2 separate regions of the Homo sapiens genome follow, and region 2 is linked to region 1. Evidence: fine-mapped expression QTL. Tissue or cell type: whole blood. Region 1 holds a variant in brackets; the other region holds the start of a gene. All regions are shown on one strand. Distances are from middle to middle.

Evidence for each region. PIP is the estimated chance that this variant, and not a neighbour inherited with it, causes the effect.
Region 2: LINC01011 starts here. The variant in region 1 is fine-mapped to the expression of LINC01011 in whole blood (TOPMed, PIP above 0.99).

The regions. Positions count from the first base shown.
Region 1 is chr6:2,947,081-2,955,258 of GRCh38, reverse strand. It overlaps SERPINB6 (serpin family B member 6), which reads left to right. Exons shown (of 7, transcript NM_004568.6): 4 at 550-667; 5 at 2,073-2,215; 6 at 6,190-6,345; 7 at 6,560-7,100. The coding sequence ends at 6,961. Among named protein-coding and RNA genes, the nearest start is that of SERPINB6, 20 kb to the left of the region's middle. The variant C/T (reference allele first, on the strand shown) is at 3,338.
Region 2 is chr6:2,983,536-2,991,713 of GRCh38, reverse strand. It overlaps LINC01011 (long intergenic non-protein coding RNA 1011), which reads right to left and starts at 3,747. Exons shown (of 3, transcript NR_026856.1): 1 at 3,683-3,747; 2 at 1,981-2,186; 3 at 543-1,845. NQO2-AS1 (NQO2 antisense RNA 1) reads left to right here. Exons shown (of 2, transcript NR_186367.1): 2 at 1,703-2,378. RefSeq lists enhancers at 568-1,375, 1,653-1,812, 1,376-2,185, 2,186-2,995, 2,996-3,805 and a silencer at 2,383-2,802.

The DNA.
Region 1 (8,178 bases):
TTCGTTTGATATTCAGAGACTGATTCAACTTAGTGTTTTTTGCTTTTTTTTTTTTGTTTTTTTTTTTTTGAGACAGAATCTCGCTCTGTCGCCCAGGCTGGAGTGTGGTGGCCTGATCTCGGCTTACTGCAACCTCCGCCTTCTGGGTTCAAGTGATTCTCCTGCCTCAGCCTCCCAAGTAGCTGGGATTACAGGTGCATGCCACCATACATGGCTAATTTTTGTATTTTTAGTAGAGACGGGCTTTCGCCATGTTGGCCAGGCTGGTCTCGAACTCCTGAGCTCACACGATCCACCCGCCTCGGCCCCCCAAAGTGCTGGGATTACAAGTGTAAGCCACAGTACCTGACCTTGACTTAGTTTTTAAGCTAGGATTAAATATAGCTAAAGCTAGGAAGTTGTAGTTTAGGTTAAGTCCTCATATTTATTTGTAAATTATGTATGTCAATCATAAAATTATAGATTTTCTGACTTGGTGCAATGAAGAAGTAGGCCGTTGGTGTTCATCATTTTTGTAGCCAGGCAGTTATGTCACTCTGTCTATCCTAGTCTTTTAGAGATTCCTGCCAAAAATTCTACCAAGCAGAGATGGAGGAGCTTGACTTTATCAGCGCCGTAGAGAAGTCCAGAAAACACATAAACACCTGGGTAGCTGAAAAGACAGAAGGTGAAAATGTATTGTTATTCTACTTTTGTAATAACCTCTTAATCCATTTTATTGTCAGTTCCTTCACAAGACTGTCAATTGTAAACAGGAATGATTTTTTTTTCTCTGAATAACTGCAAACTTAAAAAATCTGCTTCTGAAATCAGTTGCCATTATTTGACATTTTGGAAATGCTCAATGTGTTCTGTTCTCTCTGATTTCTCCCTGTTTCCTTGGTGTACCCGTGATGCCTTTCAGTGTTTGGTATACCTCTTCTGGATCAATCCACGTTTTAATTTTGAGGAGGGGGTTAGTGTGTTAATGTTAATATAGTTTTTCCTTTCACAAGTAACATAAAAAATTCGCAGTGTGGATCTCAAGCTGCCTCCCTCTTGGGTAGCACAGTCTACAGTTGCCATGCATTGCTGTGGGACACTGGGTCACGCCCTGGTCTATCTGTGGTTCTTAATTTAAACTTTTTTTTTTTTTTTTTTTGAGACAAGGTCTCCCTCTGTCACCTAGGCTGGAATGCAGTGACACAATCACAATTCACTGCAGCCTCAATTTTCTTTTTTTTTCTTTGAGATGGAGTTTTGCTCTTATTGCCCAGGCTGGAGTGCAATGGTGCAATCTTGGCTCATTGCAACCTCTGCCTCCCAGGTTCAAGTGATTCTCCTATCTCAACCTCCCAAGTAGTTGGGATCACAGGCACGTGCCACCATGCCCTGCTAATTTTTGTATTTTTTAGTAGAGACAGGTTTTCACCATGTTGGCCAGGATGATCTCAATCTCTTGACCTCGTGATCCACCCGCCTTGGCCTCCCAAAGTGCTGGGATTACAGCATCAATTCTTGTGCTCAAGCGGTCCTCCTGCTTCAGTCTCCCAAGTAATTGGGACTACAGGTAGCACCACCATGCCCAGCTAATTTTAATAAATTTTTTTTTTAAGAGACAAGGCCTCACTATGTTGTCCAGGTTGGTCTCAAACTCCTGGCCTCAAGTGATCCTCACACCTCAGCCTCCCAAACTGCTGGAATTATAGGTGTGAGCCACTGTGTCTGGCCTAACTGTTCTTTAAGCTTGTAAAGAACATCTTCTGACTGCCCACCTTTTTGATAATCCTTTAAGTTCTTGTCTTTAAGTCATAGGCACCCATGATTGCTTCTTATCTCATGTGTTAGGAACTCATCCTGCATAATTAACGCATATTTGTTCACTTTGTGTGTTTTATTCAATTGATGATGTTTTTCGTACCAGAAGATTTTGTTGTTTTGCTTTAAGGACACGTATCCCTTTATATTTGGGGGACAGTGGAACTCTCTATCCGTGCACTTGACTGCTGAAGGAGAAGGCCCCAGCCGATTCCTGATGTGTCGGGGATCCGCAGCCGCCCCTATCTAATGCGGTCTTGAATTCTTCCGCTCAGGTAAAATTGCGGAGTTGCTCTCTCCGGGCTCAGTGGATCCATTGACAAGGCTGGTTCTGGTGAATGCTGTCTATTTCAGAGGAAACTGGGATGAACAGTTTGACAAGGAGAACACCGAGGAGAGACTGTTTAAAGTCAGCAAGGCGAGTAAGGGGCCGTGACAGGAGCAGCGCCTGTGTTCACACGAGCGTCTCCGGCTCGGGGCCTCCCGCGTCTGCAGCCGTGGGGCCTTTCTGTCCCTGCCCCTCCTGCTTGACATCCATTGGGTGGCCTCGTGTCCCTGGGCGCCTGGCATCCGCCCTGCCACCTACAGGGCAAGTCTGAAGCTGCAGCCCTCAGGCTCGATCAAGGTCTTAAAGCTCAGACTCCAGATATGGCGTGCCATCTTCTAGCGGACATTTCCTCCTTTTCTCTAGCTTCATTCCCATCAGGACCTACCCACTCCTTTCTTTCTGGCGGCGTCCCGGGAAGCCCCGCTACCGCGCCTCCTGCTGGCCTCCGTGCCACACTGCAGGAGCGGAACAACTCAGCCTGCTGAATTGAGGCTGAGCAGGGAGGACTCTCTGACAAGTGCCAGACACGTAGCTGGTGCTTAGTAAATGCTGAACCGATGAGTGATATTCAGTCCTCTCTTGATAGTAAGGATAAGTACAGATTTTTGTTTTAAAACAACCAAACCAAACATGTAGATAGACACTGAGATTAACCACCTCCAGCGTGGAAGATGTCATTTGCTGATGGCCCTTTATCTTCCTCTCACTGAATCTTCTTTATTGTCTCTTGTTTTGTTTTTCTTTAACTATAGAAATTTTTGAACATAGACAAAGTAAACAGAATAGATTAATTACAGTGTATTCTTGATCATTGACCATAGTTAGATCTTCCAGGCTAACTTGAACTTGAGCCTTCAGTTTTTCAAGAAATTTATTTTCATTGTCTGTTCTCCTCGCAATTCAGAAAGAATTATTTTCTTTGAAGCTTTATTCTGAAATGAACTGTGCTATTTTCCCCTGGCAAAATAATTTCTCTCTTTAAAATTTAATGATTAACAAGATGTACAAGGGCTTTGACTACAGATAACAGAAACCCCGGTTCACCATGGTTTATCTCCTAGGAGCTCATCTCCCCTGCTAGGAGGTCTGGAGGCAGGTGAGACCTGGGCTGGTCTGGCACTGGGGCGATGATCCCAGGGAGGCGGCTCCACCATTCTCAGCACGTCGCCTTCTTCCTCATGGTCACAAGATGGCTGAGCTGGCTTCAGCAGT[C/T]CCGGTGGCAGGGAGGGGGAGGAACAAGGGAGGGGAGGGGAGCCTAAACCTTCCCCTTAGTGGTTCTGCGTTTCAGAAAGGGAAAGCTGCTTTCTATATGGTGTAGGCCAGAACTATAGGTCTTGTGGGTTTGGGGAGATGTGGAATCCCGTCATGCTTTCTGAGTTCTGCAGTGAAGAAGGGTGAAGGAAGGGGCTGCAGTATTGAGCGTACCAGCCTGAGGCCAGAGGTGTACCTCCAAGGGCACAGATTTTGAGTTGATACAGATTCTTATTTTAATTTCATTACCTTCTATATAAACTGGAACTTGTCTATATAATTGTGTATTTAGTGAATCATTCAGTCACTAAGGTTAGATCTTTTTATATTGCAAGATTGGAGGCTTTGGACCCTGAAGGGGTGCAGGGAGGAATTACTGAAGGCAGGGGTCAGCAAACTTCAGCCTACAGCAAAGCCAGCCCACCACCTAATTTTTTTTAAAGGTTTACTGAAACACAGCCATGCTTATTTTTTTTTTTTATTTTTTATTTTTTCCAAGACAGAGTTTCTCTCTTGTTGCCCAGGCTGGAGTGCAGTGGTGCCATCTCGGAACACTGCAGCCTCCGCCTCCCGGGTTCAGGTGATTCTCCTGCCGTGGCCTCTTGAGTAGCTGGGATTACAGGTGTGTGCCACTATGCCCGGCTAATTTTTGCATTTTTAGTAGAGACGGGGTTTCACCATGTTGGTCAGGTTGGTCTCGAACTCCTGACCTCAGGTGATCCACCTGCCCGGGCCTCCCACAGTGCTGGGATTACAGGCGTGAGCCACCACGCCTGGCCCATGCTTATTTACTTACTTATTTCATCCTGTAACAACAGCTGAGTCGTTGTGACGGAGATGGTACATGTAGCCACAAACCGGAAAATAGTTCCTGTCTGGTCAGTTATGGAAGAAACATGCCTACTGCTGGCCAAGGAAATGAGTGGGGCAGCCGAGGCCCAGGAGACTGCTCTAGCCAAAGGCTAAGGGCCAGCCCAGGCGAGCCTCTACCACGTGAAAGCAGAAAGCTGCCGCCGCAGTGTATTTTATTTATTCCATTTAACACAGAAGAATGTGCTACACCAGAGACTGGGGACCATACGGCGTCTTTGACTGTGCCTATTGCAGGGTATTTACTCAACTCACAGGAGCAGCTCCGAGTCAGGAACTGAGGGGGATTGTTGGATGGGGTGTGGTTCCTGGCCTCCAGTCTTTCTCATTGGCTGGCTGGGGTTGGTGACCAGTGCAGTTTTTTCTGGTGAGATGTGTAAATGTTGCCTGGCCTTTTTAGCATCCCAGCTCATTAATTCGTTTATGCATTTATCATTTATTCAGCAGAGATTGACTGAGTGCCTTTTTTTTTTTTTTTTTGAGATGGAGTCTCGGTCTGTCTCCCAGGCTGGAGTGCAGCGGTGCAATCTTGGGTCACTGCAACCTCTGCCTCCCGGGTTCAAGTGATTCTCCTACCTCAGCCTCCCGAGTAGCTGGGATTACAGGAGCGCACCACCATGCCCAGCTAATTTTTCTATTTTTAGTAGAGGTGGGGTTTCACCATGTTGGCCAGGCTGGTCTCGATTTCCTGACCTCAGGTGATCCGTCTGCCTCAGCCTCCCAAAATGGTGGGATTACAGGCATGAGCCACCATGCCTAACCTGACTGAGTGTCTTCTATGTATCAGGCATGGTGCTAGGTATTTTTCAGCCATGCACAAAACAAGCAAAGCATGCTTGCCCTGGTGAAGCTTATGTTTTCTTGGGGGAGAGACAGCAAGCATAAATAAGAAAATAGGAGCATATTAGACAGTGGTAAATGGTACAGAGACATACCAAGGGAGGGGATAGGAATCTGTGTTTGGGGTGGGAGTGTAGGGTCAGGTAAGATCTATCAAGGACAGCTTCTCTGCCAAGGTGGTTTTTGAACAAAGACCGTAAAGAGGCAGAAGTTCACTCTCCAGGTTCTGGAGGACAAGCTTACTGCGTAGAGATGAGATGAACTGGGTTTGCTGGCAGTGCAGTGAGGAGGCCTCTGTGACTGTAGCAGATAAGCAAAGGGAGAGGGAACTGGGGACGAGCTCTTATCACAATTCCAGGCTTTTTAGGGACTTTCAGCTCCTGCTCCGAGTAAATGGGGAGCCAGGGAAGGGTGTCCAGCCAAAGAACAATGTGATCTGCCTTAGGTTCTACCGGGCCCCTCTGGCCACTGTGCTGGGAACAATCACAATCATATTATCACAATATTCCAGGGCTAGGCTGGTAGCAGCAGAGGCAGAAGGAACAGGTCAGATTTTGTTATATTCTCGAGGTAGAGCCAATATAATTTGCCAGTGAGTCAGACACAGGGTGTGAGAGAAAGACAGGAGTCAGGGGCACTCCAGGGCTTTTGACCACTGGACAGTGGCACTGCCCTCAGCTGAGATGGGCAGAGTTGCAGTAGACAGAGCCGACTTGGAGGATCTACGGAGTGCCGCATTACAGGTGGCGCTGGGAGTTTCTTTTATGTCCAAACATAGGTGCAGGTGGGCAGTAAAATGCAGGAGGCCCAAGGACAGGGCAGAGGCCCAGGCGGGAGGTAAATTTGGTGTGATATTGTGTTTAAAGCCATGAGACTGAATGCGATCAATGAGAGGAAAGACACGTTGGGTTTGGGCCCTGGGCACCCCAGTTTCTGGAGGTTGAGGTAATGAAGATGGCAGAGCAGGCGCTGCCGGGTGTTCTGGAAGCTGGGGAGAAACCGAGCTGCGTTTCTCCCTGCAGAGAGTGGCCAGCTCCGACACATTTGTCCCATGTGTCAGTGGGGTCTTGTTTCAACTTGATGTTTATCTGTTTTCTTTGTAGAATGAGGAGAAACCTGTGCAAATGATGTTTAAGCAATCTACTTTTAAGAAGACCTATATAGGAGAAATATTTACCCAAATCTTGGTGCTTCCATATGTTGGCAAGGAACTGAATATGATCATCATGCTTCCGGACGAGACCACTGACTTGAGAACGGTAACAGCTAAGCTGTGAGCGAGGCGTGCTAGCAAGGAGCCACTCGGGGGTGTCTGCTGTGGCTGCTGTCCCTACTTTGCGGTCAGCCGTTTAACACTGGAGCGCTGCTGACCATAGCCACGCTGCCACTGGTGTCTGGCATCCACAGCATAGCACAGGGCCCTGCTGGGCAGCAGCACCCTGGGTCTTAAAGTCTTCAACTGTCTCCCTCTAGGTGGAGAAAGAACTCACTTACGAGAAGTTCGTAGAATGGACGAGGCTGGACATGATGGATGAAGAGGAGGTGGAAGTGTCCCTCCCGCGGTTTAAACTAGAGGAAAGCTACGACATGGAGAGTGTCCTGCGCAACCTGGGCATGACTGATGCCTTCGAGCTGGGCAAGGCAGACTTCTCTGGAATGTCCCAGACAGACCTGTCTCTGTCCAAGGTCGTGCACAAGTCTTTTGTGGAGGTCAATGAGGAAGGCACGGAGGCTGCAGCCGCCACAGCTGCCATCATGATGATGCGGTGTGCCAGATTCGTCCCCCGCTTCTGCGCCGACCACCCCTTCCTTTTCTTCATCCAGCACAGCAAGACCAACGGGATTCTCTTCTGCGGCCGCTTTTCCTCTCCGTGAGGACAGGGCAGTCTTGGTGTGCAGCCCCTCTCCTCTCTGTCCCCTGACACTCCACAGTGTGCCTGCAACCCAAGTGGCCTTATCCGTGCAGTGGTGGCAGTTCAGAAATAAAGGGCCCATTTGTGGGATGCCGCATTCACTCCGTGTGTTTGTGTGTCTGCACGGGAGATGTTTCCTAGGATCTGAAATTGCTGCTCTGGGTCTGGGTTATGTTAGTAGGGGCGGCAATGACCACCTAGCTCACCCTTGCTTGGGGGAGGTGTTGCCCACCCCCCACAGCCATGGGGACCCCACGACTTCATTGTGGGCAGACAGCTGCCCTTGAGGTCGGTGGTGTGACTCTTCCTTGGCACAGGAAGATACATGGTGCTTCTCTGTCTCCTCTACTCAGTAGTGGAGTCTCATCCCACTTCTAGGGAGAGAATGGGGTGAAATGGGGTGCTACAGGGAGGTGCGGGAAGCTCAATTCTAAAACTACCGCAAGCTCTCCGGAAGCCTGCATGGAGGTGGGGGGAGCAGGTGAACCAGATGAGGGTGACAGCAGTCCCCTGCCCTGTGGGTGTTTCTGCTTCCCTGAGGACTGGTGGATCACATGCTTGTTCACACACACACTGCCCACTTCCAAAAATGTCAAATGATGGTAGTGTTCCCTTTATAGTAACGGAGTTTACGGCGACTTCACGAGTCAGCACCAGGTGCCTTTCTGTTTCACTGAAGTATTGCAGACAGAAAAGACAGCTAAGGTTTCTGGGGCCATTTGTGTTACTTGCTGGAAATGTGATCCCTGCACCCAGCCATCCAGGAGCAGAAGGACAGGTCAGGCTCAGATGGAGCCACACAATGTTCCAGGGAGGCAGAAAGGACTTCTTTTGCAGGCAGTGGGAACCTGGCCTCTCCTCCTTTACCTGGTGCAACTGTGCTCTCATATGCTCTCACTCTTCCTGGTTCTCTTTCCCCTTAGTGTCCAGGCTGGGGTGACAGATGGGACTCAGGAGCAGCAGGAGATGTGGCAAGGATGAGTGGGAGAGCTGGGGAAAGAAGGGCCAGATAGTGCTGGTTTTGTCCCTCATACTCCCTGCTCTGCACAGCATTCTTGTTTGTTTGTTTGTTTTTGAGATGGAGTCTCACTCTGTCACCCAGGCTGGAGTGCAGTGGCACGATCTCGGCTCACTGCAAGCTCCACCTCCCAGGTTCAAGCCATTCTCCTGCCTCAGCCT
Region 2 (8,178 bases), 36 kb before region 1:
GGCTAAATTTTTTATTGTATTTTTAGTAGAGACAGGGTTTCATCATGTTGGCCAGGCTGGTCTCCAACTCCTGGCCTCAAGTGATCCACCAGCCTCAGCCTCCCAAAGTGCTGGGATTACAGGAGTGAGCCACCATGCCCAGCCTAGTTTAGGATTAAAAAATTGTTCTATGCCTTAATGCCAAAGATAGAACATTGTAATAATTATTTTATTACAATTTATGTAATTATTTTAATTATTTTATGTCTTTAAGAAACAATTTGCCTCTGTCATATCTCACATTAAAATGGAAAAAAAAATTCCTTATGTTTGTGTTCTAACAAATTAAAAGTTGTGTATCATTGTGAATTCAAAAGAGAAGCAGGTAACACATGAACTGGGATCATGGAAACCAAACCAGAATAAAGCAAGCCCAGCACAATACTATCTTGGAGGCTGACCAGTTAGAAGGTCTTAAACATAATATATTTTAAACAAACAGTTAAAGGAAAAAGATTAACCTAGTGTTGTAACCGAGCGAGTTACAGAGAAACGCCACACTCTGAGACGAATTCAGGAGTCCTTTATTAGCCGGCAGCCGAGAGACAGCTAGCGCTCGAAATTCTCTTGGCCCCGAAGAAGGAGCTAGATTTTCTTTTATACTTTGGTTTAGACAGGGGAGAGGGGGAGTCTAGTTGAAACAATCTTACAGAAGTAAAGTAGGCAAAAAGTTAAAAGGATAAACGGTTACAGGAAAGTAAACAGTTCCAGGTGCAGAGGCTTTAAGTCTATCCTAAGGTGATGGACGCCGGGCTTTGGGCGTTATCAACCGGACACAAACGCAGGGGCTCTGGGTGCTATTAACCGGGCGAATTCCTGGGAACTGCGGATATAGCTTGCCACAGTATCTTATCAGTTAATTGCATTCTTGATGTGCTGGGAGTCAGCTTGCACAAGTTAAGTCCTTGAGGAAGGGGGTGGGTAAGGGGCTGCGAGTGAAGGAGTCACGATGGAGTCCGTCTGGCTCTCTTAGCTAAGGAAGAGTCACTTCAGGTTAAAACAAGGTAGGGTATCCCACTAGAAGCCTCACATCATTAAGCTTCAGTCAGGCAGGCATTCCTTTAAAAAGTGTTTACTGAGTACCTTCTCTATGTCAGTCACTATTTGGGGCATAAAGGACTCACTTCTCCGCAAAAACAAACTCTGATCCCCCGGTCTCCTCGAGTCACGGAGCTTGCAAGCTAGTGGGAAAAATTGGGAACTGGTGCAAAGAATGACTGCAAAATAAATTGTGGTCATCTTGAAGACATATGCGTGCATGTGTGCGTGAAGCTTTTTAAATAGAGAAGCTTTAAGTGGGGGAAATTTGCTGACATTACACGATTTCTTCTCTTAGTGCAAATGTATACAGCCTGTCTTTTTGAAGGGGTCACGGTAGATAATTATGCTCTGTTAACCTCATTTGTTGTCAGGGAAAATTAAAACTAAGGGTAGTGTCAGTAGGAATCTTGGTTCCTGCCAGTTTTGTTGTTTGTTAGCATATCTTCCTTTACAGGTAGTATGGTTTCATTTTCGTAAAAATGCTGCATAAACGTGGCTGGGTATGTTACTCATTGCAGTGCCTGCTGATTTCGCTGGACCCCACCCTGCTTTTGCTGCCCAATGCGATAGCATATGGGACAGAGCTAAATTCCTACTCAGCTGTAACTCTGCTTATTTTCAGGAAAAAGAATGCCTGTGTTTCGAAGTTCCTTCTTAGGACGAAACCAGCTGAAGCTGGCGAAATCCAAGATGGCGCCTCTGAAGAGCCTCTGGCTTTATCATCATCCTGTTCTCATGCTAAACAACATGTCGCCATGACAACGACTGGAAGAGACCAAGAAGGGACAGAAAAAAAGGGGTTTCTTGATTCCGGGAAAAATCTCCGTTCTTTCCCAAGGAAAGCACGAATATTCCCCCCCGTGCTCTTAATGCCCAGCCCCTTCATTAAAGACACCCTACCTCTGAAACTTCCCAGCTCTCACAAGCTAAGTTGATTTCAGATCTTCCAATTCCATAGCCATTGAATACAGCCTGCACTGCTTGACACACTCCCTTTCGGTTTCGTGCATTGGCCTCACCACGCAACAGGAAACAACCCTTTTTGGGATAACCGGGACTCCCGGTAACATTTCCATATATACATATCTTAATGTATGCAAGGGCGTCTGGGGGAGAAAGAAGCAGCACATTTCATTCTTTGCTTTCTATAATACTGGATTGCTTGAGTTTGTGACACATGTTAACATTTGCAACATTTTTAAACTAAATTGTATGTATTATAGAACAGTCCTCTGCGCTGAGCTTGGACTTAAAGTGGAAAGGCTTACATTTGCAGAATTAAAAAAAGCATCGAAACATTCTGTGGCAGGAAGTCCTGCGAGCCTCCTCGCCCCAGCCCGGTTTCCCGCGGGCCCCAGCCTCATCCCCCAAGGCCCCACCCTGAGAGCCCCCAGGTCCCAGCCGCGTCCTCCTGGACCCCTCCCAGGCGTGGCGAGCCGGGTCGCGGGAGCGCTCCGCCACCAGGGGACAGTGCGGCGCCGACCGTGGGCTGCTGGCTCGGCCGAGGGCACCCAGGCGCCCTCCGCTGCAGCGGGCTGGTTGCAGAGGGGCGGGCTCTCGCCAGGCAGCAGGCGCTCCGGGCGCAGCTGGGAGGAAGGAACGCCCCCGGGAGTGGGCGGCGGCCGAGGGACCCTGCAACCGTCCTCCCTGGAGGAGGCCCCCGCAGCTCCCGCAGCCCCCCTCATCCCGGACGGGCCGGGGATTGGGACTGGCCTGGGGTCTCCTACTCTCCTACTCCGCGCAGGAAGTAGCCCCTTGGCAGGACCGGCGGTGCCTGCTGCTTTCAGGAGCCCCGAGCCGCTTTTGTCTGGGTGCAGCTCAGCTCACATCCCCGATGCAAGTCTTTCCCGGCTCGTCTCCCCTTCTTCCCGGAGTCCATGCCTTGCTGTCGGTGACTCATCCCACACTGTGCCCTGCGACTCACCCTGTCGCTTTCTCTGTTCATCCGGGAGCGCGGCGCCATCTCCCTCCAGCCCCGCCTCCCCTACAGTGCTCCGTGCTGAGGTCGCACGTTCTCTCCTCCCTCCAGCTCCCTGGCTCTTGGCCCTTCCCAGGCCACCAGGCGACAGCAGCCTCCGCCTTCATTTCCCTTGGTCATTTCAGGCGCATGCTTGGAGGATTTCAGGATCTGACTCAGCTTCCCCGCCATGCATCCCTCCACCAGCATCCAGTCACACCTCTGCAGCCTTCAGTGTCCTGGAAAGGACTGACCAATCTGACCCATTAGAACCTACCCAGACCAATTTGAAGGCCACTGCCCCTCAACCGTGGCCACCCACTCCTGCCCCACCTGGAGCCCCAAACTGCTCAGTTCCTTCTCTAAAACTCTGCCCTCTTTTGTTTGTTGTGAATAACTGTCTTCCCTGGTTCTTTCCACACCTCTCTGGCCTCTCCTTGTCTTTTTCTGGTTCTTTTTTTCTCTATTCTCCCTTATGCACTGGCCTTGCTGGAGGTCCCTGCTCTCCCTGCAAAACCTCACCACACCCTTGACTTCAGCTATATCCATTTCACCTCACGTTGACATCTGGTGCCTAGACCTCTCTCCCGAGCCTTCCACACCATGCCAAAAATGAAATTCATTTTCTCCTCTAAATTTGCTCACCTTCTTGTTTTCCCAATCTTATTTATTGTCACAGCCATTCCCCTGCTGGTCCAAGTCAGTAGTCTGAGAGTCATGCTAGACTCCTCCTTCCTTATCTACCCATCCACCAATCCCCAAGCCCTGTCTATCCTCCTTTTTTTTTTTTTTTTTTTCCAGTCAGAGTCTTGCTGTGTTGCCCAGGCTAGAGTGCAATGGCACGATCTCGGCTCACTGCAATCTTTGCCTCCCGGGTTCAAGTGATTCTCCTGCCTCAGCCTCCTGAGTAGCTGGGATTACAGGCGCATGTCACCACGCCCAGCTAATTTTTGTATTTTTAGCAGAGATGAGGTTTTGCCATGTTGGCCAGGCTGGTCTTGAACTGCTGACCTCGTGATCCGCCTGCCTCTGCCTCCCAAAGTGCTGGGATTACTGGCATGAGCCACTGTGCCTGGTCATCTATCCTCCTTTTTAAATAGCTCTGCCATGTGTGCCTGTCTCCCCTGACAGCTCACCCTCATCCTATTTGTCCACATTGCTGCAGAGTAGTCTCTTCCATACACCAGGAGTTCCCAACCCCCGGGCCACAGACCTGACTGGTCTGTAGCCTGTTAGGAACCAGGACACACAGCAAGAGGTGAGCCACCAGTGGGTGAGCTAGTGAAGCTTTATCTGTATGTGCAGCTGCTCCCCATTGCTTGCATTACCACCAGAGCTCTGCCTCCTATCAGATCAGGCAGCATTAGATTCTTATAGGAGCACAAACCCTACTGTGAACTGCACACATAAGGGATCTAGGATGTGCGCTCCTTATGAGAATCTAATGCCTGATAATCTGCCGTTGTCTTCATCACCCCCACATGGGGCCAGATAGTTGCAGGAAAACAAGCTCAGGGCTCCCACTGAAAATAAAGTGCACAAGAAGTGTCATGTGCTTGAATCATCCCGAAACCATCCTCTGCTGTCCAAGGAAAAATAGTTTTCCACAAAACCCCTCCCTGGTGCCAAAAAGGTTGGGATGGTTGCCATACATAACTCTGATGATGAGACCACGAAGCTCAGAATCCTCCAGAGGCTCTCCACTGCCTGTAAGATGAAATAAAATTTATGGGTGTGACTTATCCATAAGGGCCCAGTCTAAACTGCCTCATATTTAATTATATAGTAAGCTATTTGTTTCCTCAAACGTATATATTTTGGCCCATTTCCCAGTCTCCTAGGTTGGAATATGCTCTGTGTGTCACCTGGCCAGCTCATGCTCTTTCTCATTCTCAGCTCAAGTGTTAGGGACTCTATGACACCTTTCTTGATTCTCCCAGTCAGACATATTGTTGCTACTTTTTCTTAACACTTATCCTTTTATCCTTGGCACCACTAAAGCACATATCACATCAGATTTCACTTGTTTGCACATCTGTCTGGCATCTTGAGCCCAGGGACCGTGTCGCCTGTCTTCATGTCCCCAGGCCCTAGTGTAGCTCCCAGCCTATAGTGAGTGCAGAATAAAAGTTTGTAGAATGAGGCCAGGCGCGGTGGCTCATGCCGGTAATCCCAGCACTTTGTGAGGCCAAGGTGGGCAGATCACGAGGTCAGGAGTTTGAGACCAGCCTGACCAACATGGTGAAACCTCGTCTCTACTAAAAATACAAAAAATAGCCGGGTGTGGTGGCACGCGCCTGTAATCCCAGCTACTCAGGAGGCTGAGGCAGGAGAATCGCTCAAACCTAGGAGGTGGAAGTTGCAGTAAGCTGAGATCGCGCCACTGCACTCCAGCCTGTGCAACAGAGTGAGACTCTGTCTCAAAAAAAAAAAAAAAAGTTTGTAGAATGAATGAAACAATTAGTTACACCACAGTTAGTGAGTCATCGATACTTCATCAAGGCTGGGTATTTCGTATAATAAAGTTATTAAAGCTGATAAGCAAAGATCAAGTTACCCAAAGAACAGCACTGCCGGTGATCTAAAGGTCTTTGCCCTCAGGTTGCTTAGGTAACGGAAAGGATAAGAACTCCCCACTGTTCTGGGGCGGATCTTACATTGCTTTTGGAAGAGGCAATAGACTTGGGAAAGAAAGGAGTGTGTGTATTGAGGTATTGAGGGAATGGTTAGGTGGGAGGAGTCAGAGAGGAAGGCTGCAGTAGCCCCTCAGTCGACCCTGGCTGCTTTGTCCTTGGGGCTCAGTGAACAGATTATCTGTTTTCATGGTAAGGGGTTGGGATTCTCTACTTCAGGTGGGCACCCAGAAAGTGAATTGCTCGCCTTTGTTTAAAAATAATGAAAATGGGCCGGGCGCGGTGGCTCATGCCTGTAATCCCAGCACTTTGGGAGGCTGAGGCAGGTGGATCACCTGAGATCAGGAGTTTGATACCAGCCTGGCCAACATGGTGAGACCCCGTCTCTATTAAAAATACAAAAATTAGCCAGGCGTGGTGATGGGTGCCTGTAATCGCAGCTACTCAGGAGGCTGACACAGGAGAATCACTTGAACCCAGGAGGCGGAGGTTGCAGTGAGCTAAGATCTTGCCACTGCACTCCAGCCTGGGCTACAGAGCAAGACTCTGTCTCAAAAACAAACAAACAAAAAACCCAAAAATAATGAAAATGTCTGCCCACCCTTCACTAAGTAAACATAATGAAAATGCACATCTTGTGCCCTCTTTTGCTTTTATTCTATAATACCCAAGCCTACGTTTTGGAACTAAACCCCACGCCCTTTGTGTGAAAGCCATGCGGATCTTCAAAGGGATCTCTTTAGGGGGAACATTAAGTTTGCCCAAGGAGGCACCCTTCTGGGTCTCCAAGGCCACCTGGCTGCAATGCAGTCCAATTCCAGCCTCTGTCTCCCAGAGCACCCCCTGTGCCAGGGCGGCAGGATCCCAGGGGTGTGTCTACCATGGCACCAGACACACACTGGCTGAATGTAGCCTCGTCATCGCTGAGCCCTGTTCACAACCATTTTTGTTTTCGTGCTTTTTCAGTTTTAGGAGCTTTGTTGTATCCCTGGTCAAAACTACTCTGGTGAAGCTCACTAGGTGTCTCTAACTCGGCACCTGAGGAGCAGTTTTCCTGAGCTCCTCATGCAAATGGACGCCACTCCCTTCGGCAAAGTCCTGGGAGCTCAAGGGAGGCTGCCCAGTCAGCTGCGGCCCATCCCAACGCATTGGGGACCTGCCCACCTGGCTCTTAATTTGCATTTTGAAATGTCACCCAAGTGATTCCAGACCAGATAAGAAGATGAGCTTCTCTTGTTATGGAAAAAGGAAGAGAGACAGAGAGAGAAACCTCTGTTTTGTTATTTAGCTATTCCTCAAATTCTTATGACCAGTGATGATATTTTTTAAAAAATCTCCAGAACAACACAATTATTTAAATTTAACTCAGATTTTATTTTAATTTATTAATTTATTTATTTTTGAGATGGAGTCTCGCTGTGACACCCAGGCTGGAATGCAATGGCGCAATCTTGGCTCACTGCAACCTCAGCTTCCCGGGTTAAAGCGATTCTCCTGCCTCAGCCTCCCAACTAGCTGGGATTACAGGTGCCTGCCACCACGCCTGGCTAATTAATTAATTATTATTATTTATTGAAACGGAGTCTCACTCTGTCACCTGGGCTGGAGTGCAGTGGTGTGATCTTGGCTCACTACAACCTCTACCTCCCAGGTTCAAACAATTCTCCTGCCTCAGCCTCCTGAGTAGCTGGGATTACAGGCACACACCACCATGCCTGGCTAACTTTTTTTTGTATTTTTAGTGGAGACAGGGTTTCATCATGTTGACCAGGCTGGTCTCAAACTCCTGACTGCAAGTGATCCGCCTGCCTCGGCCTCCAAAAATGCTGGGATTACAGGCATGAGCCACCGCACCTGGCCTTAACTCAGATTTTAAATATGAGAGTATCAACTTGTAGGGGTGGAAGAGGTGTGATGCCTCTCCTTACACATTGTATGGGTCACAGCCAAGGCTCCTATCTCAAAAGACACAGTCCCACCTCCAGCTCCAGTTCGTCTTCTCATTCATCCCAGATAAGTTTCTTGAAAGAGTATTCTAAGACAACTCTCTCCATGTGTCTCCAGGCCTGGATCTGCCTCAGTTTTTGCTCCTCCCATCTATCGTCCCTTGGTAACTAACGACTTGGGAATGAGAAATGCCCTTTTCAATTCTGACTCTCCTCTTCCTCTCAGCACCAGCAGCGGATGCTGACCTGGTTCTCTGTTTCTTCTGTCTTCTCCTTCTCTGTCCTCTTTGCCATGTGCTCCTTTTCCAGCTGTCTTTTAAAATGTTTGTTGCTGGATCAAGGAGTTTCTCCCCCAGCTTCATTTAGCATCGATAGCTCTTACCTTTGTCGTAATTTCTACCTGTCCTCTGGACATCTTCACCTAAATGTTCACCAGCACTCTAAGCCCCTTTTGACTCAAACTGATTATCTGACCCCTAAATCTGATCCTCCTCCCCCTATATACTCTTTCATGTACCCAGTTCTCTGAGTTAGAATAAATACAAACCATCTGGAACTGTAA